Regions from separate parts of the Homo sapiens genome. Here region 1 is linked to region 2. The links come from fine-mapping of genetic effects on gene expression. A gene starts in region 2. The other region holds a variant in brackets. All regions are shown on one strand. Distances are between the middles of the regions.

What was found. PIP is the estimated chance that this variant, and not a neighbour inherited with it, causes the effect.
Region 1: its variant is fine-mapped to the expression of PTCD2 in whole blood (TOPMed, PIP 0.97).

What each region holds. Positions count from the first base shown.
Region 1 is chr5:72,224,726-72,236,659 of GRCh38, forward strand. MRPS27 (mitochondrial ribosomal protein S27) reads right to left here. Exons shown (of 11, transcript NM_015084.3): 6 at 9,394-9,472; 7 at 7,718-7,833; 8 at 3,541-3,643; 9 at 1,332-1,474. Among named protein-coding and RNA genes, the nearest start is that of MIR4803, 61 kb to the left of the region's middle. RefSeq lists an enhancer at 9,537-9,831. The variant GC/G (reference allele first, on the strand shown) is at 4,693.
Region 2 is chr5:72,315,090-72,327,023 of GRCh38, forward strand. PTCD2 (pentatricopeptide repeat domain 2) reads left to right here and starts at 5,284. Exons shown (of 10, transcript NM_024754.5): 1 at 5,284-5,420; 2 at 7,083-7,175; 3 at 11,523-11,652. The coding sequence starts at 5,294. MRPS27 (mitochondrial ribosomal protein S27) reads right to left here and starts at 5,151. Exons shown (of 11, transcript NM_015084.3): 1 at 5,060-5,151. The coding sequence starts at 5,132. RefSeq lists enhancers at 4,202-4,743, 4,744-5,284, 4,883-5,212, 5,273-5,482.

The sequences.
Region 1 (11,934 bases), 90 kb before region 2:
TTGAATGAGGTGATTTCTGTGACTTAGGAAGTAAATTTAAAAATAGAGCATTTTTGTTTTGACCCCTCTCCCCTCTACTTTCACTTTGAGGTATATCTCCCTTGACCCACAGAGGGCCTAATCATCAGAAATGGGATATTAACAACAGCAAGGCCAGTAGAAACACCTACCTGAAACGAATTAATCCTGTCTATGTCATATCAGAACAGAAATCCTAAAAATATGCCAAGGCCTTTTAATACCACTAATACATCACATCCAAACTGGACACATAGCACATTCTTGCTGACATGTGAACTCATTTTCTACTGTTAGAATGCAAAGAATGCAAATCTGGCTGAGATTGGAAGGAATATTTCCCTGGCAAAGGATTTATGTATAATTTTGTGTTTTCAATTACCAGTACTGACTACAGCAGGGTTAAAACAAGTATAGTGAGAAATGTATATCCTTTGTTATAAACGTCTGGCAAAGAGCATAATGATTCACTAGACATAAGTATAAGGTGACAGGACAGACACCAGACCTGACCACCTCAGGACTGAAATGAAAGCCAAGGGATGACTCTAGCAACCAGAGTCAAGAAAAAACAAATATGTGGCTCTACGGTGACCTTTAAGCCATGGTAACAAGACAACCAATGTCCTTCTCAGGACTCACACTGGCTGTAAAAGCTGTTTGGACAGGAGCAGACACTGCAGCTGCCTGTGGGGTGTAAGGCGCATCATGTCTCCTGGAGTTCGAGCAACCTCATACCATCAAGGGTCCTAGGTGACCAAGAGGCATGAGCTTTGGGGCTGGTGGGAGAGTAGTGTTCTCGTCCTGGTAAAGTGAACACCTTAGAACTTTGAAAGAAACATCTGACCGAGATCTCATCAGCATCACACATTCACACAGAATGGTTTAAGATGGTTCCATCTCTGGTCCCCAGATTCATTTCTTGAGGACTTTTATGGGGAAAGATGCTATGTAGCCTCTCAGGACTACATGGTATTACAAAAACACCAAACATATTTAAAATGAAATTTTACCCTCTCTTGAGTTCCCACTGAGATTTTTTTTTTTTTGGTAAGGAGGTGAGGGACGAGGCAGTGGAATAGTTTTTTTTTCCTAGACAATGAACTATAAATCAATGTTAATCATATTTTCTAGTGCCTTTGGTCAGGAGCATTGAAAATGTTTGTGGTTTTGCATTTTTTCGACTTGATAAATACCTATTCTATAGACATATAGAAAGTAGGGGTAGTGGAAAGACAATGAAAACAAATTTAAAGCTCAGGTTATGGGAAACAGATGGCTAAATCTCACTGCCTTAGAGCTGAAGAACATACCGCTTCTCTACACAGCTTTATGTCTTCTGGGGAGGCAGCCACTTTCTCCATCACTTGAAGGGCTCTGTCAAGGTAGCCTGGTTTCCATATCAGAGGCATGTTGTGGTACACAGCCCGTAGCCCTTGCTGCAACTCCACCTTCCCTGTGGCCAAAAAGAACAATAAAGAATGCTCAGCCATGTCTTCCCACCATTTCTAAGACTGAGGACCTGAAGGCCCAAGTGAATGTTCACCTGGCAGCACTAGAAATAGAGAAGGATCATTTTAAATCTGTACCAACAGACTCATCTCATTCGGTGACACTTCAGATGGATAATGACGAATGTGGTAAAATTCACTGTATCCATTTTGTAATGCAAAATTACATGAACTTAGTTTTCTTCTTTCTCATTTGGGCTGAGGATGTATATATAAACCACTGGGCTGAGGGCAATTGAGAGGCTGACATATATGGCTCTAGGTAAGGATACTCTTAAAAAACAAGTCAACTGAGATACAATTTTTGTTTCAAGAACAAAATCTTCCCCAGAAAAAGAAATCTCACAGCTTTCCCACTGTGAAAATTTTGTCAACATCCGACAACTTTCCCTGCTAGGAAATGTCTGTCATTTTTTGAAATCCTTCAAAACACCCAATCCTTATGAAAAAAAAAAACCCCTCATCTTTCCCTTCTTTCCTTTGAGTTTCGTCAGTTTTAAAATAACAGAGTTCTCATGATCTTTTTGGATCTCTGGACATGAATGTTTCTCTGGGTACCTCAAGCCATCACACCTGGAGTTCAAGATGTGGATGCTAGACAGCAGGGTCTTCTGGTAGGGAGATGGCTGTCTGTATTCCTGTGGCACAGAACCTGGCTGCACTAATGACCAAAGTCACCTTGAGCTGCCCAGTCTTAAATCCACCTTCTTTTATCTTTCCTGGGAAGGAGGATTTGGGAAAGCCAGAGTAGGACACAAACAGACAAAGCTTATCAGGCGACAGCTAATTTTAGACCTTTAAGGTGCTTGGGGCTGGACTGCAGTTACATTCTGGGCAGCTGCTTCCATCAGGGCTGAGTGAGGCTGCACGGCAAATGACACAATGAGAGCAAAGAGCTTCTGATCTGATGGCTGCTATCACAAAGAACCAGGGCCTCTGCTCACAAACCACAACAAAGTACATATTCTTTGCCCTGTCACTTCTGACCAATTCAGGCTGTATGACAGTCCTGAATGCTGATCTGAAAGCAAAGGAAAATACATGTAAATCAATATCAAAAGTAGGTGGCAAATAAGGAAAAAATTATTTTTAAAAAGAGTGGTCAACTCCTTTGTTAGTCTGATAGACAGTCAATAAACTCTGAAGTTCCTGAGTTATTATATCAGAATCAGCACCAAGAATAACACACTACATTCTGTTGGCAAAGATCAACTTCAAAAGCAGTCAAACTGCTATAACTTTATGATTTTTAAAAAACAAAGGTAAGCAGAAGCAATGTATAATTGAGAGATGCCTAACTACTTAAGAGACGATGGGAGAGTAATGAAATAACATAAATTTAATAAACGTCTGTAAATCGGGACGTTACATTTAGGTTGAATCTTATTTACCCAGATTCCACACAACCCAGGTTCCGAGGCCACTCTTCAGAAGGCTTTGTCCTCTTAACCTGTCTGATTTTCAATGCAATCAGGGCACAAGAGGAAAGCCACCACTGCACCTCCTGGTGCAATCACATGGTACCCATGAACCACTCCACTTTTCCTGAAGTGCTACTACTTCTGCTCTTAGTTTATCTTCCCTTACCTGAAAACAATACCAAAGATACAAGTTCAACTCTAACTCTTAATTTCTTACCTTCTGGACTTTAGATCTAAAGAGACAGAAAGATCTTTGTTAATACTGGAAAAGATTCTACTAGCTAGTCTCCCTAAACAGGGCCAGAACATCCCTTTCTTTATCCCTTCTTCAGACTGATTACCACTGAATATTATTACCTATATCCACCAGAACTAGTTCTTGCTTTGCCAGTGATGGCAGGTTTTAAGAACCCTCTTTACTCTCTTATGGAGTAACTGTAAGGCCATCAAGGTCTATTTTTATGTCTAAAAACGAAGGCTAATTGGATTTCACTGGTAAATTTAAATCAAATTACAATTTTATTATGAACTGGAAGAATGCAACAATTCTAACCATGAAGAACAGTATTTGTAAGGATCATTTAGCTTACCAAGAAGTGCATAGCCATACAACTGGGAACTGAAACCCACTGAGTTCTTTTGTTTTAGGCCTGGAAGCAAAAGGGATGCACCAAAGTTCCTCTCCTCTTCCCACTGCAACAGAATATACTGGATCATGATCCATCTAAGCAATGAGTACTTTATACAAAAATGTGACTTTCAATGACATGAGGAAAAGAACATGTTATAGCATTAAGTAAACAAAGAAGAACAAAGCTATATATACATTATAATCCTAATTTTGGGATTAAAAGGTACTTACGTCAAAGAAAAATATAGGAAAGAAATACCCTATATGTTAATGGATTTTTGGGCAGTGAAATTATGAGTAATTTTGGTTTTATTCCCTGTATATCTTATTATTTTCCAAAAATTTGGCAATGAATAAGCGTTTCTTTTACAATCAGAAAAGCAAAACAAAACACAAATAAAGAGTACACTTTAAACCGACACTCGAGACAATCAAGATTCAACATGCTGTCAGCCCCACAGTCACTCATACTGCTGTGGCCTGATGGAACAAGCTTTTGAATTTTAAAGAATTTAGCAATGATAAGACTCCTTCAGAGTGTTAGAATAAATACCACTATTAAATTGCTTTTAGATAGATTTGTGCTTCTCAAAAACAAATTAGGCAGTCAGAAACAGTGATCGCTTCTTTCAGCCCAGGGTGCAAAATTACGCTTTAATGAAAATGAAGTCTTTAGAGACATGGGGGAAACAAAGGGCAAAAACACAAGCATTGCTACACCTGCTGCAGACTAGTAACAACGATGACTGGAGGACTTCCTGGCAATGCGGCCAGGGGAGAGCCTTGGCAACTCCCCAGTGGGATCTGTGATCTTCTTGGTGCCACATGAGTACACAGTGGACAGAGCTGGAGCCCTAACTCTGGCTTCAAAACATAGAACACTAAGCTCAGGTTGCCCTGCACTGGTCTCTGCACCAAGAGATTAGGGAGGAAGCAGAGAATGAATAATGTCTGCAGGCTGCAGTTACAACCACGGGCAAGTGAGGCACCCCAGATGTTCATAGGCACCCAAACCTCTTTACTGTAAGTAGGCTTTGTGCAATACAAGTGTCATTTCTTGAGGCTGCTCCCCAGTCTTTGAGAAAAGCAAAGACCTCAGAAGAAAAACAAC[GC/G]CCCCCCCCAAGCACTTCTGCAGCACAGGTAAATAAAAGAGCTGGTAATTAAAAACCAGGTCATTTTACTTTCAAAACTAAGAAGTTTGATTTTCCCCACCTAAAACTGCATGAAAAGTAGGGCCGACAAATAATAAATAAGGAGCCTTACAAACATTTTTCCCCCTGTAGGGAAAAACATGAGCTACAGTAACAGGCTGTAGTAGGGGTTAAAGCCAAATGAACACTAAAATATCTAAGCACTAGATACCTTTGATGTGTTAGGAGTCGAGCAGGGGTGGTGACAGTGACTGGGATGGTTATACTTCTAAAGGACTTCAAAAAAGATGAATGAAAACAAACCAATGACTGTCTTAGAAATTTTCTGATCATTGTCTGGGGCTGCTGGAACTACTGCTGCTTATATGAAGCTATTCATGTGTCAACATAAATTAACAGATATCTTCCAAGCCTTTAGTTTCTTTTCTTTTCTTTTTTTCTCTTTGGAGACAGGGTCTTGCCCTATTGCCCAGGCTGGAATGCAGTGGTGTGATCACAGCTCACTGTAACCTCAAACTTATGGGATCAAGGGATCCTCCCAACTCAGCCTCCTGAGTAGCTAGGACTATAGGCATGTGCCACCATGCCTGGTTAATATTTTTTTTATTTTCAATTTTTGTAGAGATGAGGTCTTGCTATGTTGCCTAGCCTGGTCTCAAACTCCTGGCCTTAAGCAATCCTCTTGCCTTGGCCTCTCAAAGTACTAAGATTACAGGCATGAGCCACTGCTCCTGGCCCAAGCCTTTAATTTCTATTGTAGACACTATAATGGACTAATTCAGGTGTGGTTTCATCAATGCCTTCAAAGTTTTTCCATTTTATGCTTTGCCTCTTCCATTAATACAAAGCAAATCCTCATTCTCCCAACTTCCCCGCTTTATTCTCCACTTCATAGCTAGGCATCTTAAAAGAGTTGTCTATACCTCTAATCATTCTACAATCCATTCCAATTTGGTTTCCTGCTCCATTACTCATATGGAAACAAAGGTTACGATTTAGTGCCTCCCGTGCCACTAATGCATTTAATTGACTTTTTTTATTCCTCATCTTACCCTACCCCTTTGGAAGCATTCTACATAGCAGACCATCTCTTCCTGTGGATTCTGTGGTCCAACACATTCCTGATTTCCCTTCTTTTTGCTTTCTAGCTCATTTGCAAACATTTACACATGGAAGTATAAGTCTCCACAATTGTATCTCCAGTCCAGATCTTTCCATTAAGCCCCCAGTTCCTTGGTGAAATCTCGTGACTGTCTCAATTTCAAAATGCAACATGTTCAGAGTCACATTAATGATTTTTCTCATAACATCCAGTCTTTTCCCAAAGTTCCCTTTTGGAAACAACACATGGAACACCTTGCATCCAGACATATGAGTCAGAAACTGAGGAGAGAATATGTGACCCCTGCTTCCCTGCCTCATCTTGTTATTTACCTTCCAAATATGCCCATTGGCTACTCTCTAACTGCATCATATCCTGGTCTCTATGCTACCATTATCCCTTGCTGAGATTCATGGTAGTCTCTCGGATGGTCTGACCATAGCCATCCTTGCCCTGCTCTGATAGCTTATCCACAGTACAGCCAGAAGGACCTTATCAAAACACAGATTTGATTATTATATGCCCTCTGCTTCTAACTTTTCAAGGGCTTCTCACTGTTTTTAGAACGAACACAAAATGGCTTAGTATGGCCTACATTCTCCAACCCTCTCACCCCACGTCCTCCCTACCATTTTCTGTTGTAACTACACTGACTATCTTCTTCCAGCCCATTTCTGCTCACTAAGTTTTCTGCCACAGGGTATTTGGACATGTAATTTCCTCTTTTTGGACTGTTCTTCCCCTCCTTAGCCAGTTAATTACCAGTCATCCTTCAATAGTAACCTAAGAAATATTTCCTTAAGGAAGCCCTTCCTAACCAATTTAAGTTTAAAATACAGAGAAAACTCCCTATAATATAGTCTTTTCTTAGATTTCTCCTTTGCAGTGTTCATGATAGTCATAGTTTTATATCTCTGTGATTGTTTTGTTTAAACTCTGTGTTCTTCCTAAATTGTAAGCAGAAAATGTTTGCTCACCAGTACATAACTAGCACTTGCCAATGTATGGAATTTGTATGTGTTCAATACAGTATATTTAATGAATTAATAATGAATGTGGGGTATATCATAAGACTATGACACTCATCTTAGAAAGGCATAACATGCCATCTACTCTTTAGAATGTGGTCTGGACTAAATGACCTCTTCAGTTCCTACCCAAACTGGGATTTTTGATGTTTACAATTGAGGTTAAGGGCAGATGGCAGAGGCAGACTAACTGGCTTTACCAGGTGGCTTCGTTACCTACTAGCTGGGGGGTTACTCTGTAACATCTCTAGGCCCCAGTCTCCTTATCTGCCTAGGGTTGTTGTGAGAATTAAATGCATTAATACATTTAAAACAAGAACACAGCCTGGTGTAAAGTAAGTGCTACTTAAAATATCAGTTATTGCTATTGCTATTCTTAGGACAACAATAAGCAATGATTAAACATGCGAACCTAAGATCTGAAACCAAAACTTGATATTCTAGACTTTCCAAAACGGAACTGCCCTAGAGAAACCTTAGGAAAATACTGATACAAATGAAATAATTAGTATTTAATATCCCAGGTAATGGTCAACGTTAGCTGCCTCACTGCCTCTTTGACATGCCATGTCCAGCTCTCAGTGACTACCAATGACCCATTTCTGAATGTCTGAGGTGCACTCAGCCTAGCTCAAGTTTCAAAATATGCACGAGGACTTTCTTTTGAGATTCTCTCAAGTGGAAGAACCTCCAATTCCATTTGTTAGAAACCAGTAACCAAAATGTATACAATAAACACACATTCCTGGTTGTGCCTGGCCACAGAGCTGCAGACACCTTTTTCCAGCTTTTGAGAGCAAGCCCCTGCTTGCCTTTTCTAAAGTTCTTAATACTGCTTTAGGGAAGATCACTTACACTGAAGTCTGTCTTCTTTGCCAGGCAATGAAATAAAACATAGAGGGAGAGAAGTTGGGTGGAAGGCACTTCAAAGGCTTCTTGCATCATGACCTCAAAAACCACAGATAAAGCATCTAGCAGAAGATGAAAGTAAAAAAGAGAGGAAATTAGTTGTAGGTAATATTACTAAATCTCTATTTAACTATAAACACTCTTAAAACGTGGGGCATGGTTTAAAAAAATGCAGAATTAAGAAGTAAAATATGCGGGCTTAGGCTCTGGCCCTAGTTCTTCCACAAACAAGGTTTTTCCTCAGCCTTTAGCTTCTATTTTACATACCAGAACGAACTAAATCAGGTGCTACTGCACCAACGTCCTGAAGGACATTAAATAAACCACTCATTTCTCTTGGCTCCCAGTATCATCGTCATAATGATAAAATACTATTTGCTTCACCTACTTCAAGAGAATTTTGGACAGTTCAACCAGAAAATGGCTCAAACTGTGATGCAAATTTAAGGCATCATGTCTACCAGCTAGAACAGCTAAGGCATAAAGGAGACACATATATTCTCAAGGTCACCCTGACAGGCAGAGCAGACAGGCTGGTCTGACTGCCCTATTCTCTGCTCTGGTACCTTCTCACTGTTAAGGCAGAAGAGGACAAAATGCTAAAGGAAACCCTAAATCTCAGGTGTTATTTCAAAGACAGCAAAATAATGACTATAAAAAGGACAATAAGGCTCAGTTTAAAATACTTGTTGGAAGGGAATGGGAAATGCTCGTTCATAAATTATAAGCCCCTGAGTATAACACGTAACATAAAATATTTGTTTGCACATTAATGCTGGTCATTAAAGCCTGGAGAGCAGGCTTTAAGCAATTTTTATTTTCCCTTGATATTCTACAACATAGATGGAGGCCAAGAAAATCAAGTCAAACAATTTCCTTTCTGTAGTTACTTGGTGGTAAAGCAGAGAATATTAACAATGGCTTAAAATATAGTGCCTGTTCATATCACAAGCACAACAAATGTTTTTTACTTACTGAATTATTTTTTTAACCAATTTTTACATATATTCATAACTATAAAATAGCACTGATTTGCAGCTGTTCCTACCCAGCTGGTTTTGCACATGTCATGGTTCTGAATGAGGCCACACGCATGGATTTCTATGTTCTTTTTGCAAATGGGGAAACTGAGATAGGCAGACCAGGTAGTCATCTAATAAGTCAGTAGAAAAATAAGAACCTGGAAGGGATTTTCTTTTACACAAACAAACAAGCCAGTAATATTTTAAAAGAGCATAGGCTAAAAATTCAGTTGAAAAAAAAAATCTCATTTCTGCCAACTGTTCATTACTGAATCCAAAATTATACTTGAAAAATAAATTTACTTTATCCTTTATTTATATTCTGCATTTCAGTCAGTTTGGGAAGTGAAATTAGATTGGCCTGTATAATTAACTTACTTTTCCTCCATAATCATTTATGTACTTTGATATTTTCTATCTTAAAATAAAAATAATGTTTTTAAAAATTTTGCATAAAAGATAATCATCAAAACTTTTCTGACTAAACGAGTAATGAAGAGATGTTATTAAGAAATAAAAAAGGGGAAGTTCCTACATTTGTACACCTCCCTTTGGGAGCTGGAAGCCCTATAAACACTGAATCTGGGGTTAGTTTCTTACCTTTGTAATTTTCTTTCTTTATGAAAGAATCCATCAGTAAATTGAATGTAAAGTTATCTGGAAAAATTCCATATTGAACCTATAATGAAAATGAACATAACAGGAAAAAAAGAGAAAATTATCTAATTTAGTCTGTAATATATGCCTATGTATTATTCAGAATAAAACTTGCCACCATTAGCTTTAAAATATTTGACTATCATTTTACAGCATCTGTGACAGTGAAACAGAAGCCATGACTCATGAGGTTTGGTAACAGGAACTGTTGGTCAGGGTGAGAAAGTTGTGAGTCTGATATAAGACAACTGATAATGTAAAAACTAAGGCTCCAATTCTAACACCTCATCATAGCTTAAAAAAAACATAAAAGAAAAAAGAAAAAAAGAAACCCACACAACCCCCCTAACTGGTTCAGTGACTCTTCTTATAAAGTATGAATAACAATACAAAAACAGACTCTCATGAGAAAGCAGACATTACACAGCATTTTCTGGTTCTTAGCCTGGCTTTTAAGGTCCCAAGAAATATGCCAAGAAATATTTGCTACTAAGTTTCTAGAATGTTGTGTCATACAACTGAATACTTGAGAATTCAGATTTCTTAAAATGTGGACCCTTTAGCACCTGCAGGATGTCGACTTTCTCAGAGTGTTTTTAACAATATAGATTCCTACGTCTCAGACCTATAGAACCAGAATCTGTGGGAATTGGGCACAAAACCCTGAATTTTTAGTGAGCTTCTTGTGATTTTCATGCATACTCATTTTACTACCAATGATCCTGATTGTGGCTGCATTTTTATTTGTTTCAAATTCTTCAGTAATGTTAACCACCATTCCCCACAGGGCTCCATTCTTCCCTCTTGGAACCAGTAGAAACACCTGAGGAATTTTTCCAAACTATATCCATATCCCCTTGAGAGATTTTGATACAGTCCTAACCCCCAACTGAATCACCACTGAGCTGACTCACTGTTTCCAGGTGTTATATATAGTAGCCTCAGGTGTGCCGAAATGGAAAAATGTCTAAAAACCACTGTTTTAAAGGTTGTAGCTCATGGCCAGTGTCTATATTTCTCAAAGCAGTCATCCAAATCAGTATTAATCCCTAGGGCAGGCTAAAAACCAAAATATTTTAGGATGACAAATCATTAAAGCTGAAAGGGATTTTAGAAATCAACTGGTCAGTGATTCTCAACCCAGGCTGCAAATGAGAATCAACTGAGAGCTTTAAAAAACAAACAAACAAACAAGCAAACCCAATGAGGGATGAATAGGCAGGGATGAGGGATGATACTACAATGGTGGATACATGTCATTATACATTTGTCCAAACCCATAGGACGTACAACATCAAGAGTGAACCCTAATGTAAACTAGGACCTTTGGGTGACAACGGTTTGTCAACGTAAGTTCATCAATTGTAATAAATGTACCACACTGGGGCAGGATGTTGATTATGAGGAAGGCTATGCATGTGTTGGGGCAGGGAGTACATAGAAAATCTATGTACTTTCCACTCAGTTTTGCTGTTGAAGGAAACAAAAATATTTCTCCCCAAAATAATTGAGGATGTTAAGTTAAAGATACTGAAAATGCAGGGGAAGACTCTGCCATAGCCTCCAATTGCCTGATGGCAGCACATAAATCCTTCCTTCCTAGAACAGCACTTGCTTCTGAGCCCAGAGAAGGCATCAGCAGGCACCAGAGGAATCTGAGAACAGATTTTACTATCTTCCCACATTTTCCCACCTTTTAAAGACTGGAACTTTTCCTTCGTCTTGTCACTGTATAGGATTTATGGCCCTTGGTTGAAATACTATTCAGTAAGGCCATAAGCCACTGCCTTGAGATAGAAATGCTTTTGAACTGAGGCCTTTCCTGTGTGATGAGTACAGCATGTGTTAATAAACTTCTGCTTGTTTTTCTTTTGTTAATCTGACTTTTGTTTTCAGCAGAGTGTCTCAACTAAGAACCTAAAAGGGAAAGAAACTAAATTATGTTTTCTCCCCTATACTGTGAACCCGAAACTGACAGAAAAATTTAAACTTATTAAAAAATTTTTTTAAATTCCAATGCCTGGGCCCTAGACAGATCAATTAAACTAGAATTTCAGGAGTAGAGGCAAACATCTACAATTTTTAAAAAGCTTCTTGGGTGACCCTAATGGGCAGCCAGAGTTGGAAATCACTGATTTACTACAACCCACTTGACTTAGAGTTGAAAAAACTAAGAGCTAGAAGAATACAGTTATTTGCCTAAAGTTACCAGCAACCAGGGGAGCCTGTGGGGCTACAGCCTGGATCTTCTGATTTCTAGTTTGATGTTCTTTCCACTAAAAGACTCAAGAAGCAGCAAAAATTCTAGACCCTCCTAGTTTTGCTATCATAGGAATCTTTGAGTGTAATCTGTGACATTACACTCTGAACTGAAGAAAACAAGATTTAATCCATTCCTTCCTCTGGGCCTTCCATTTCCTCCTCTTGAGATTCAAGGCTGTCATCTTGATTGGACTTATCCAGGGACCTAGCTCAATCTTTTAC
Region 2 (11,934 bases):
AATGGCAAGTTCATCAAAATTTAAAACTTTTGTGCTTTGAAGTACAATCTCAGGAAAGTGAAAGTACAACCCAAAGAACAGGAGAAAATATTTGCAAAACATTTATCTAGTACAAGACTTGTATCCAAAATATTTCAATAAATCTTACAACTCAAAAATAAAAAAAAAGACAACCCAAATGAATGATGGGTAAAGGATTTAAACAGGTATACCTTTAAAAACATATATACACTGAGGTGGGTGGATCACTTAAGCTCAGGAGTTCAAGACCAGCCTGGGAAACATGGTGAAACCCCGTTTCTACAAAAAACACAAAAATTAGCCAGCCATGGTGGCATGCACCTGTAGTCCCAACTACTCAGGAGGCTGAGGTGGGAGAATCGACTGAGCCCGGGAGGCAGAGGTTGCAGTAAGTCAAGATCATGCCACTGCACTCCAGCCTGGGCAACAGAGTGAGACTCTGTTTCGAAAAAAAAAAAAAAAGAAAAAGTAAAATATATATGTATACACACACAAATAGCTAATAATCATAAGGACAGATGCTTAACATAATTTGCCATTAGAGAAATGCAAAACAAAATCACCTGGAGAAACGAATGATACTCACTACAATGACCACCATCAAAAAACAGATAATGACAACTGCTGGGGAGGATGCAGAGAAACCAGAAACTCATACCTTACTGGAGAGAACATAAAACAGTGCAGCTGCTTTTTAAAGAATTTGGTAGCTCCTCAAAATGTTAACATGGAGTTACTCTATCACCCAGCAATTCCACTCCTAGGTTTACAACCAAGAAAAATGAAAACTTGTGTCCACAGAAAATTTGTAAACAAATGTTCACAGTAGTATTATTCATAACGGACAAAAAGTGGAAACAACCCAAATATCCATCAATTGATGAATAAACAAAATGTGGTCTATCCTTACAATGGAATAGTATTTGGCAATAAAAAATGAAGTACTGATACATACTACATGGGTGAATCCTGAAAACATGTTAAGTAAAAAAGACGCCAGTCACAAAAGACCACATATTATATGATTCCATTATATGAGCAATCCAGAATAGGCAAGTCTGTAGAGACAGAAAGTAGATTCATGGTTGCTAAGGGCTAAAGGTGAGGATCAGGAAAGCTAGAGGAGAAATGGGGAGCAATTGCAAATGGGCATGGAATTTCTTTTTGGGATAATGAAAATGTCCTAAAATAGCTTGTGATGATGGCTCCAGAACTCTGTGTTTATACTAAAACCTTTGAATTGTATACTGCATTTGTTGTTTCTTTGTTTGTTTTTGAGATGGAGTTTTGCTCGTTGCCCAGGCTGGAGTGCAATGGTGTGATCTTGGCTCACTGCAATTTCCACCTCCCAGGTTCAGGTAATTCTCCTGCCTCAGCCTCCAGAGTAGCTGGGATTACAGGCGCCTGCCACCATGCTTGGATAATTTTTTGTATTTTTAGTAGAGACGGGGTTTCACCATAATAGCCAGGCTGGTCTCGAACTCCTACCTTAGGAGATCCCCCAGCCTTGGCCTCCCAAAGTGCTGGGATTACAGGCGTGAGCCACCATGCCTGGCCTGAATTGTGTATTTTAAATGGATGAATTGTATGGCATGTGAATTATACCTCAATAACTCTGTTTAAAAAAATAGAAAAACAGCCAGGTGCAGTGGCTCATGCCTGTAATCCCAGCACTTTGGGAGGCCGAGGTGGGCGGATCACCTGAGGTCGGGAGTTCGAGGCGAGCCTGACCAACATGGAGAAACCTTGCCTCTACTAAAAATACAAAATTAGCCAGGCGTGGTGGTGCATGCCTGTAATCCCAGGTACTTGGGAGGCTGAGGCAAGAGAATCCCTTGAAGCCAGGAGGTGGAGGTTGTGGTGAGCCGAGATCACGCCATTGCATTCCAACCTGGGCAATAAGAGCGAAACTCCGTCTCAAAAAAAAAAAAAAACAAACAGAAAAAATGACAGATAATTATGCTGAGGTCACAGCAGACCAAAAGCCCAACACAACTAGATAGCATGGGGGCTGATTAAACACAGTATTGGAATGCTGTTTTTATTCTCTACCTACTTTCCAGCTCAAACAAATAAACAAATACAAACACATCTGTGTGAATTTATACACAGTTCATTCTCTTACTGTGAACACAGATCTTTACTAGAATAATATATCTAAATTTGAGTTCTACAAATTAAATAATGAGGCAACAATAAGGTTTCCAAAGACGCTTTCAAAAGGAGAACTAAGAAAAGACTATAATTATTTAAATTAATTTCCATTTATTTTTTCGTTTTGGAAATGGAGTTTCGCTCTTGTTGCCCAGGCTGGAGTGCAATGGCATGATCTCAGCTCACTGCAACCGGAAGGCGGAGGCCTTCCAGGTTCAAGCGATTCTCCTGCCTCAGCCTCCTGAGTAGCTGGGATTTCAGGCATGCGCCACCACGCCTAATTTTGTATTTTTAATAGAGACAGGGTTTCTCCATGTTGGCCAGGCTGGTCTCAAACTCCTGACCTCAGGTGATCCACCCACCTCAGCCTCCCAAAGTGCTGGGATTACAGGTGTGAGCCACCACACCCGGCCTAATTTTATTTATTATTATTATTTTTTTGAGATGGAGTATCTCTCTGTTGCCCAGGCTGGAGTGTAGTGGCATGATCTTGGCTCACTGCAACCTTTGCCTCCAGGGTTCAAGCAATTCTCCTGCCCCAGGGGGATGGTTCTAGAATACCCCCTCAAATACCAAAATCTGAGAATGCAGAAGTCTCTTACATAAAATTGCACAGTATTTGCAAATAACCCACAAACATCCTCCTGCATTACTTTAAGCTGGGGTGTCCATTTTTTTGGCTTCCCTGGTCACATTGGAAGAAGAACAATTGTCTTGGGCCACACATACATAAACTACACTAACACTAATGATAGCTGATGGGCAAACAAACAAAACAAAAAATGCTAAAAATCTCCTAATATTTTAGTTAAGTTTACAAATTTGTGTTGGGCCACATTCAAAACTGTCCTGGGCTGAGGGTTGGACAAGCTGCTTTAAGTCATTTGTAGATTACTTATAATACCTAACACAATGTAAACGCAATGTAAGTGGTTGTCATGTTGTATTTTCTTTGTATTATTTTACTGTTGTATTATTTTTTATTGTTAGTTTTTGTTTTGTTTTGTAGTATTTTGATCCGCTGTTGGTTGACTCTGCAGATGCAGAATGCTCGGATAAGGAAGCCAACTGTACTCCCGCATACCAGCTACTTGCTTACTCTCTATTTATTATCTGTTATTCTCTATGCCTTCATTCTAGCATATGCTTCATTCTAGCATAAGTAATCACCTTTCTACATTCTGGAGTCAGGACAATATCTAGATCATTGCTCAAGAGTTCTGAACTGGGAGATTAAAAAGCTGGGCCAGCTGGGCACAGTGGCTCACGCCCGTAATCCCAGCACCTTGGGAAGTAGAGGCGGGTGGATCACCTGAGGTCAGGAGTTAGAGACCAGCCTGACCAACATGGAGAAACCCCGTCTCTACTGAAAATACAAAATTAGCCGGGAGTGGTGGCGCATGCCTGTAATCTCAGCTACTCGGGAGGCTGAGGCAGGAGAATCACTTGAACCCGGGAGGCAGAGGCTGCAGTAAGCCGAGATCGTGCCATTGCACTCTAACCTGGGCAACAAGAACGAAACCCGAAAAAAAAAAAAAAGGCTGGGGAGGTGATTGTGGGGAAAGACAGGTCTCCCAAAATGCCCTCTGTGTGTAGTTGTTCACGGAAACCACATAAACAGAAAATAGCTACAACAGCTAATTCTTACTAAGGTGTCAAGCGTTGTGCATAACACTGCCTAATGTGTGACATTAAACGTTTTCACCAGGTCAGCCACTTAATCTTCAGAAAACTGGTGGCCAACTCTGAGGTTTCACATTGACGTTTAATGGCTGTTCCTAAAGAAGTGCGTGCTTTTTAAAAAAATAGAGGATGGGAGGTAGGTTGGAAAGGGAAGATAAGCGGCAATGGAAAAATCGAGTGTGATTATTGCATTTTTATCAAATATGTCTGTCTGGATTATGTGGTTAGAATCACTGCAAATTTGGCTTCTATAAATACTTTAAAACTTTTTTCCAATGTTTTCATTATCAGATCCACTATGCAGGCTTTGAGTGGGCTGCCATTTAGTTCAGATATCAAAGTATTTTACAAGTAACTAATAGCATTTATTATCTACACGTGGAAAACTATAGCAAAGAAAGGTCAATCAAAAGTTGTGCTCTAGGTCATCAGATAAAATGAGATTAATACTGAAAAATTCTTCCACGAAGACCAGGGGTCCAGCTAAATGTGTGGTGGTGGGAAAAATGTTTATCTGACGTCCCTCTAAAGAAACCTCAGATGGGAGAAAAATGTCCCAGCCCCAGGAATGGACACATTTAGGTTTTTCCTTTTTTTTTTTTTTTTTTTTTTTTGAGACAGGGTCTCGCTCTGTTGCCCAGGCTGGAGTGTAGTGGCGCGATCTCTGCTCACTGCAACCTCCGCCTCCCGAGTTCAAGCGATTATCCTGCCTCAGCCCCCCGAGTAGCTGGGATTACAGGCGCGCGCCACCAGGCCCAGATAATTTCTTTGTATTTTTTAGTAGAGATGGGGTTTCGCCCTGTTGGCCAGGCTGGTCTCGAACTCCTGGCGATCCGCCCGCCTCGCGTTCCCAAAGTGCTGGGACCACAGGCGTGGGCCACCGCGCCCGGCGCACATTTGGGTTTTTCGTGGTCAGCAAAAGCACGACCACCCCAACACATAAATCTGGCGAATCATACGCAAATTCCCTCATGCTATATAACCTTCCACTGCTCTTCGTACCTTTGGACAGGAACATACTGTTATTTTAGGGAAGGAAATGGATCAGATACCTTGTCTCCTTCTTCTGCACTACCAAACACCCCAAATGGCGTCCCTAGCAATCAGATTCCAGAAACGTTTCCTCTCCTCTTGAAAGCCCACCGCTCCCTTCACCCAAAAAACAGAATAATCAGGGGCCTAATGAAGCTGTCCGGCCAACCTGCAGGAGAGAGCTGAGGAAGAACCACTTGCCGCGCCAGGAGCATCCCGCGCCGCACTATGGAGGCAGCCATCTTGGAGCGTACCAAAAGGAACAGCCAACGGGTTACGGACAGAGGAAGGGGCGGGGTTACAGCTCGACCTCTCGGGGCGCCCAGAATTGGACGAATCCCTTTTGTCGCTCTCGACGACAGGACCGACGCTCCGCCTCCTCGCCCCGGTTCCAGTAGTTGGTATGGTCCGAGACAGTATGGCTGCTGCATTTCGGCCCTCGAATCGAGTTCTCCTGCAGGCGCTGCAGATTTTGGTGTATCCTGGGGTGGGAGGCTCCGGCTCTGTCAGCTGCCGCTGCCCTCTCGGAGGTATCCGCGGCTTTAGCCTAGGGAAGGAGGGGAGGGATGGGAGAGAAGGGAGTGTTAGATCCCAGCTAGCATCTCTGTGGAGCAGCCACAGCTCCTAAGTCACTCACTGGCCTGGAGCGCACCCTCGCCCTCTAGTTGCACGTGGGTGCAGTGGTGACCACTGGGGGTCGTGGATACCCCCAGTGCCTGCAAATCGAAGGACTGCTGGGGTATTGACCTTGGGGCTGTAGTGCTCCCTCAGATGGGGCGACGTTCGTCTTCAGGAACATCCCTCCCGCCTTGGGTGACTTTTATTTATTTATTTATTTATTTTTGAGACGAAGTCTTGCTCTGTCGCCCAAGCTGGAGTGCGGTGGCGCGATCTCGGCTCACTGCAGCCTCCGCCTCCCGGGTTCAAGCGATTCTCCTGCCTCAGCTTTCCGAGTAGTTGGGACTACAGGCGTGCGCCACCACGCCCGGGTAATTTTTTGTATTTTTAGTAGAGACGGGTTTCACTATGTTGGCCAGGCTGGTTTCGAACTCCTGACCTCGTGGTCCACCCGCCTCGGCCTCCCAAAGTGCTGGGATTATAGGAGTGAGCCACCGCGCCCGGCCTTTTTCTTTTCTGCAGAGTTTGGAAGCAGAGGTCTTATGGAGTCTCAGTTCTGCTAACAATCTAAAAGACTTAACGGCACGTTTCTTCATTTTTCAAAACTATCCTCTAACATCTCTATGAAGAGAGTTAAATCTGAAGATGCTAGTGAGTGATAGTAAAAATGTTTGTCAGGCATTACTTTAATGTAGTTTACATACATTAATTCCTTTTCTCTAGACAACACCCAGCAAGAGAAGTACCATTCTTTTCTCCATTTACAGAGGAGGAACAAGGTTAAGTAATTTGCCCAAAGTCAGAGGGAACTGTTAGAGGTGGGATTTGAACACACCCAACAATAGAAACCTGCTCCTAACCACTTCACTGGACTGCCTTTCTGTAAATAAATAGCAACTTTTATTGTTACCTTGTTACTGCAGCTCACAGAACTCTGTTAGTGCGTGATTCTTCGGCCACGCTTGGTCCGTTTTATCTCATGCACAGCCAAGGATCCTAAAGAAAGGATGATGTTTCCCAAATCTACTAAGCTGTGATCAATGATTTCCATGTATCTCAAATGTATTTTGAGTCCACATCTGAGAGGCCTTAACCCCCTCATTTCACAGAGGACAAAACTGGGAGTTCCAGTGGTCATGCTGCAGCTTTTTCCACTACACTGTGCTTCTCCCTGGATAAACCAAAACTAAATATGCCTGTTTTGCATTTAAATGTTATTAGTTTTTTTTTTAAATGCCCTTGATACCCTTAACCGATGGCAAATGCCCATTTGTACTTCAAATCCCAACTTCCTGTCAACCAGTCCCCACACAGGTTTATCACTAGCTACGGTTAATCACTAGCTTCTTTCACACACACAAATAAAACCTGTTTTGCTGAGGATTTGCATTCTCTGGTAGTTCAGAAATTGTTTTTCCCAGGATTTATATTTGTACAGTTTGTACAGTTATATTTGTACCTGTCTAATGGATTATCTATAATAGATGTTAGAGGTAATCCAGCTCTATTCATGTTATTTGCTAACTTCTAAAACAGTCAAAATGACTTTACTTTTTTCTTTCTCTGATTTTTAGCTAAAAGATACCTACTTACAGATAATGTGGTGAAATTAAAAGAATTTCAACAAAAGAAAGTGGCTGTTGCATGTAATCTTTCTGGCACTAAAGGTAATAGAATCTATTTTGTTAATTCTGTCATTTATCTGTCATTTAAGTTTCTCTGTCTTTATCCCTATTCAGTGTCTCCTTCAGTGACTTTATTATGCCTTAGAAAAAGTTGAGACCATTTATTGTTAGTTTCATAGTGAACTCTTATATTTATCTTGCATTTCATACTTTGCTGCTACAACGTCTACAGCTCTCCTCTTATTCCTTCTCTTACGATCCCAGAGAAGTATTAAAGCTAGTGCTGCGATTGGTCTTGTCTAAATCTGTGCCATTAAAAGTGAGGTTTGAGGACCAGCGGCATCAGCATCTATTGGGTGGTTGATAGAAGTGCAGAGAGAAAGGCCCCAGATCATTCATATGCACAATAAAGTTTAAAAACTTCAGATGATTGGCTTTCAAACTTTTTGATGTAACCTTCAGTGAAAAATGCATTTTATGTTGCATCTCAGTACACACAAACATATCTATATATAAATGAAATCAAATGAAACAAAACAGTACTATGTGTGATGATACATTTGGTATTTTTCACTCTGTGCTAGAAAAGTCAGTAGGATCAAAAATTTCTTAAAAAACAAGAGAAACCTGACTACCAAACCTAGGATTTGGCTGGGCATGATGGCTCATGCCTGTAACTCCAGCACTTTGGGAGGCCAAGGCAGGAGGATTGCTTGAGCCAGGGAGTTTGAGATCAGCCTGAGCAGCGTAGACCTCATCTCTACAAATTTTTTTAAAGTTAGTTGGGCGTGGTGGTGCATGCCTGTAGTCACAGCTACTCCAGGGACTGAGGTGGGAGGATTGCTTGAGCCTGGGAGGTCTAAGGTGCAGTAAGCCATGATCACACCACTGCACTCCAACCTGTGTAACAGAGTGAGACCCTGTCTCAAAAAAAAGATAAATCTGGGATTTGCTTTGAAAAAAAATCCAGTGTGTTTGAGGATTGTAGTGTAGAGGAAACATAATTAGCAAAATATTGATAATGATTGAGGCTGGGTAATGGCACTTAGTGAGGGGGATTATTATCCTGTTCTTTCATTTCTTGGGTATGTTTGAAAATTTTTGTTATAAAAAGCTACAAACAAGAACACCACCCTAGGTCTTTTTCCCTTTCAGCACCTGAAAAATCTTGTGCATTCATTCTCTCCCTCCTGCACATAGAGTTCTTCCCAGCATTTCATACCTTTTATTGTGTGTGGATGCAGCAGTGGTCCCTGGGGGTTGTGGATATACCTCCTTGATCCTCCTTTATGAACACATCTAAGACTTTCCTTTTTTTTTTAATAACTCTTGGTGTCCCTACTGACTTTTTCAACCATAGACCCAGCTCTCCTTCCTCTCACTGCCAGATGTTTGTGAGCTCCTGATTAACACATTAACATTCTCTTTGTTTTGGTTTGTTTTTTAAGAGACAGTCTCGCTCTGTCACCTAGGCTGGAGTGCAGTTGGCACCATCATAGCTCGCTGCAGCCTCAAACTCTTGGATTCAAGCAATCCTGCTTTAGCCTCCTGAGTAACTAGGACTACAGTGCCACCATACCGCCTAATTTTTAATTTTTAATTTTTTTTTGTAGAGATGGTCTCACTGTGTTGAGGCTGGTCTCGAACTCCCAGGCTCAAGCTAGTATCCCGCCTCAGTCTCCTAAAGTACAAGCGTGAGCCACTGCACCCATCCTGATACTTTCTGCCTCCATTCCCTCACAATTCAGTCCTCCAGAAATCAATGTTCTCTCGCTGCTCCGCTAATCATACTGTTATATAATACCATATAGGGGGCAAAAAAATAAACCTTTGGAATGGGGGGAATATATTTATCCCCAGTTGAGTAGGCTCAATCTAGATTTCACTTCAGTCTTTTCTTTCTACCCAGGTATTTTAGATCTATGTGAGGTTTGCAGTTAGGGCTTCATGTCATCCAGTTGTGATTTCCAGTTGTCATAGTCTTCATAAGTCTGTGGCAGTTGTGTACATGTTCTGAAAGGCAATTAATATAATCAGTGCCAATCTGCTCTATTGTCAGACTGATATGTTTAAAGTCCTGTCAACCTTTCATCATTTTGAGAGCCCACAGTGGTACTCTGTTGTATACCACACTATTAACATACTCATCTCTCTGGCATCCTGGCTCTCCCGTGATGGACTCCGCCCTTTCTAGGACGGTTTCTGGTTGATCTAGTCACAGCTTTTCCCTCCACACCTGTCATTCCCAGTTCTGTTCTGTTGCTCATGCTGATTTCCTTACCTAGAATATCCCCCTCCTCCATTTCTCCAACCTGATTTCAGCCCTTTCCTTTCTCACTGGTACCCCTCCACTTTCACCAACCTGGTCTGTTCTGAGTCATAATAGTAAAGGTTGTAACAGGACTCTTCTGTCCACTCTGAGTTGTAATAGGTGTCGTAACAGGACAGAAGAGTCTTATTATGTTTATAGTATTCATGTGTCACCTCCTCCATCATTGTTTTCAGGTAGCTTTGTATAAATTTAGCTTGCCCTCCCCAAAATGCTTTTAAGTTCTTTGAGGGCAGGAACTATTCCTTACGCTTCTTGGTGTCTCACACACAAAGAAGGATACTTCCGAGTATGATTATATGATAAACAAATGTTGATTGATTTGTTTTAAAACACAAGTTATATCTGTTGAAATACTGGATTCTTAAGGTGTTGTTTTTTTTTTTTCTGAGACAGAGTCTTGCTCTGTCACCTAGGCTGGAGTACAGTGGCATGATCTCGGCTCATTGCAACCTCTGCCTCCCAGGTTCAAGCAATTCTTGTGCCTCAGCCTCCCTAGTAGCTGGGATTACAGGCGTGCACCACCACACCTGGCTACTTTTTGTATTTTTGGTAGAGACGGGGTTTCACCATGGTGGCGAGGCTGGTTTCAAACTACTGACCTCAAGTGATCCACCCACCTTGGCCTCCCAAAGTGCTGGGATTACAGGCCTGAGCCACTGCACCCGGCCTCTTAAGGTTTATTAAGGAGGATTAAGGAGTACAAGATGTAACGTCATCTCTTTGATGACTTGAGACTTTTTAGACTGGAAGTTGCTTAGAAATATTTAATAGACTAAATCCTCTTAGATCTAACAGGTGACACAAGGAATGAAAATGAGAACAATAATGTTTCTATTTACTGGCAGTTACCGAATGACAAATGCTTTACATATATCATCTCAGGTAACCCTGTGAGGAAGGTACCACGATCCTTAATTTACACATGAGGAATCAAGTCTCAGAGCAAGGGTCTCCATCAGAATGCAAGTGGCCGAGCTTAGATTTCAGCCCAGGTCCTTCCATCTCTAGAGCCTTTAACTGTTACATGGTTCTGCAAATAAAAATTGGAAGAGCCACTGCATTATCTCAAACCTAGTAGGTCTTTTCTTTTAAATTGAGAACAGTGCCTCTGCTTCTAGTTCTTGTGTTTTAGATGTATTTGTGCCTCTCCTTTCAGCAGCATTCCTTCAAAGCTCTGGGTTCTTGGAACAAATCCTATAGCTATTTCCTGGCAGCTTCTGATACTGACAACAGTTCTGCCTTCTGGAAAGCAGATGCTTGGTTGGTGCCTGCTTTGCTTTTCACCCCGCATTTTGGTGGGAATAAAGCCCCTTATTGATGACAAGAAGAGGTGCCTCCTTTTGGTTTTTGTCCCCACGGTTGATCAGATACAAAGACAAGGGAGAATGATAGACTGTGATGACACTGAAATGATTCTGTCACTGAAAAACTGTTTGCTGCTGTTTGGAGGACTGTTTTCCCCCCTGCCCATTACATAGTACTTTGGCATGCCTTCTAACAGCTGAGTAAAAAGAGACCAAGAGGAATGAAAAAGAGGTGAAGTTGAATCAAATGAAAGAAACGTGAGTCATGTGGGTCCACCATTGTGGACAAACCTACCTTCAACTCACATTTTCTTTTTAGTTTTCCCATTTGGTTCTCTGCCAGTTGACGGTTTGGGTGTCTGGCTACATTTTCTTTCTTTTTCTCATGAGTCACCTAGAGATTCAGTTATTTGAGCCAAGCCTCTGGAACAGTAATTCTCAAACTTTAGTATACCAGAGGATCACCTAGGGAATCAAAAATGCCAATTCTTGAGCTCTTACCCCACAGATTTTATTTTAGAGAGTCTTGAGTGGGCCTGGCCCTGTGCCCATGTCCCTGCCTCCTGTGACAGATGCCATCTGCTGATGCTGTTCTAGAGGAGATTGGCCAGTGATGGCAGCTGTGTGTTTCTGAACCCCTCTCAGTGCCCCTCTGCAGTGAGCCGGGGTTGGGCTTCCCCATCTTCCTGAGGTCAGACTCCTTATACTCTCAGTCAGCCTGAGTGATGGTCACCATACTGTGCTTTCTTCCAGAAACGTATTTTAGAAACTTGAAAAAGAAACTGACCCAGAACAAGCTCATCTTGAAGGGGGAGTTGATAACCTTACTACATTTGTGTGAGTCTCGGGACCATGTGGAACTGGCTAAAAATGTCATTTACAGGTGAGGCATTTCCTTAGAATGTTGCCACCCTTATCCCTTCTTACTCTGTTCCTTTCTATGAGCAGTCTGATCCACTTCGAAGTTGTTGCCACCTCTATACTAGTGACTTCCAGATCTCTTGTTCGGATGCCTACCTTGAACTCCAGACACCTACATTCACTTATTGTTGAGCACACACTTACTGGGTTCCTACTATATGCTGGGTGCTAAGGATAGAAAAGCAGATATTTTATGTCTAAAGAAGTTACCAGCCTATCACTGACATATCCCCTAGGTCTTCAA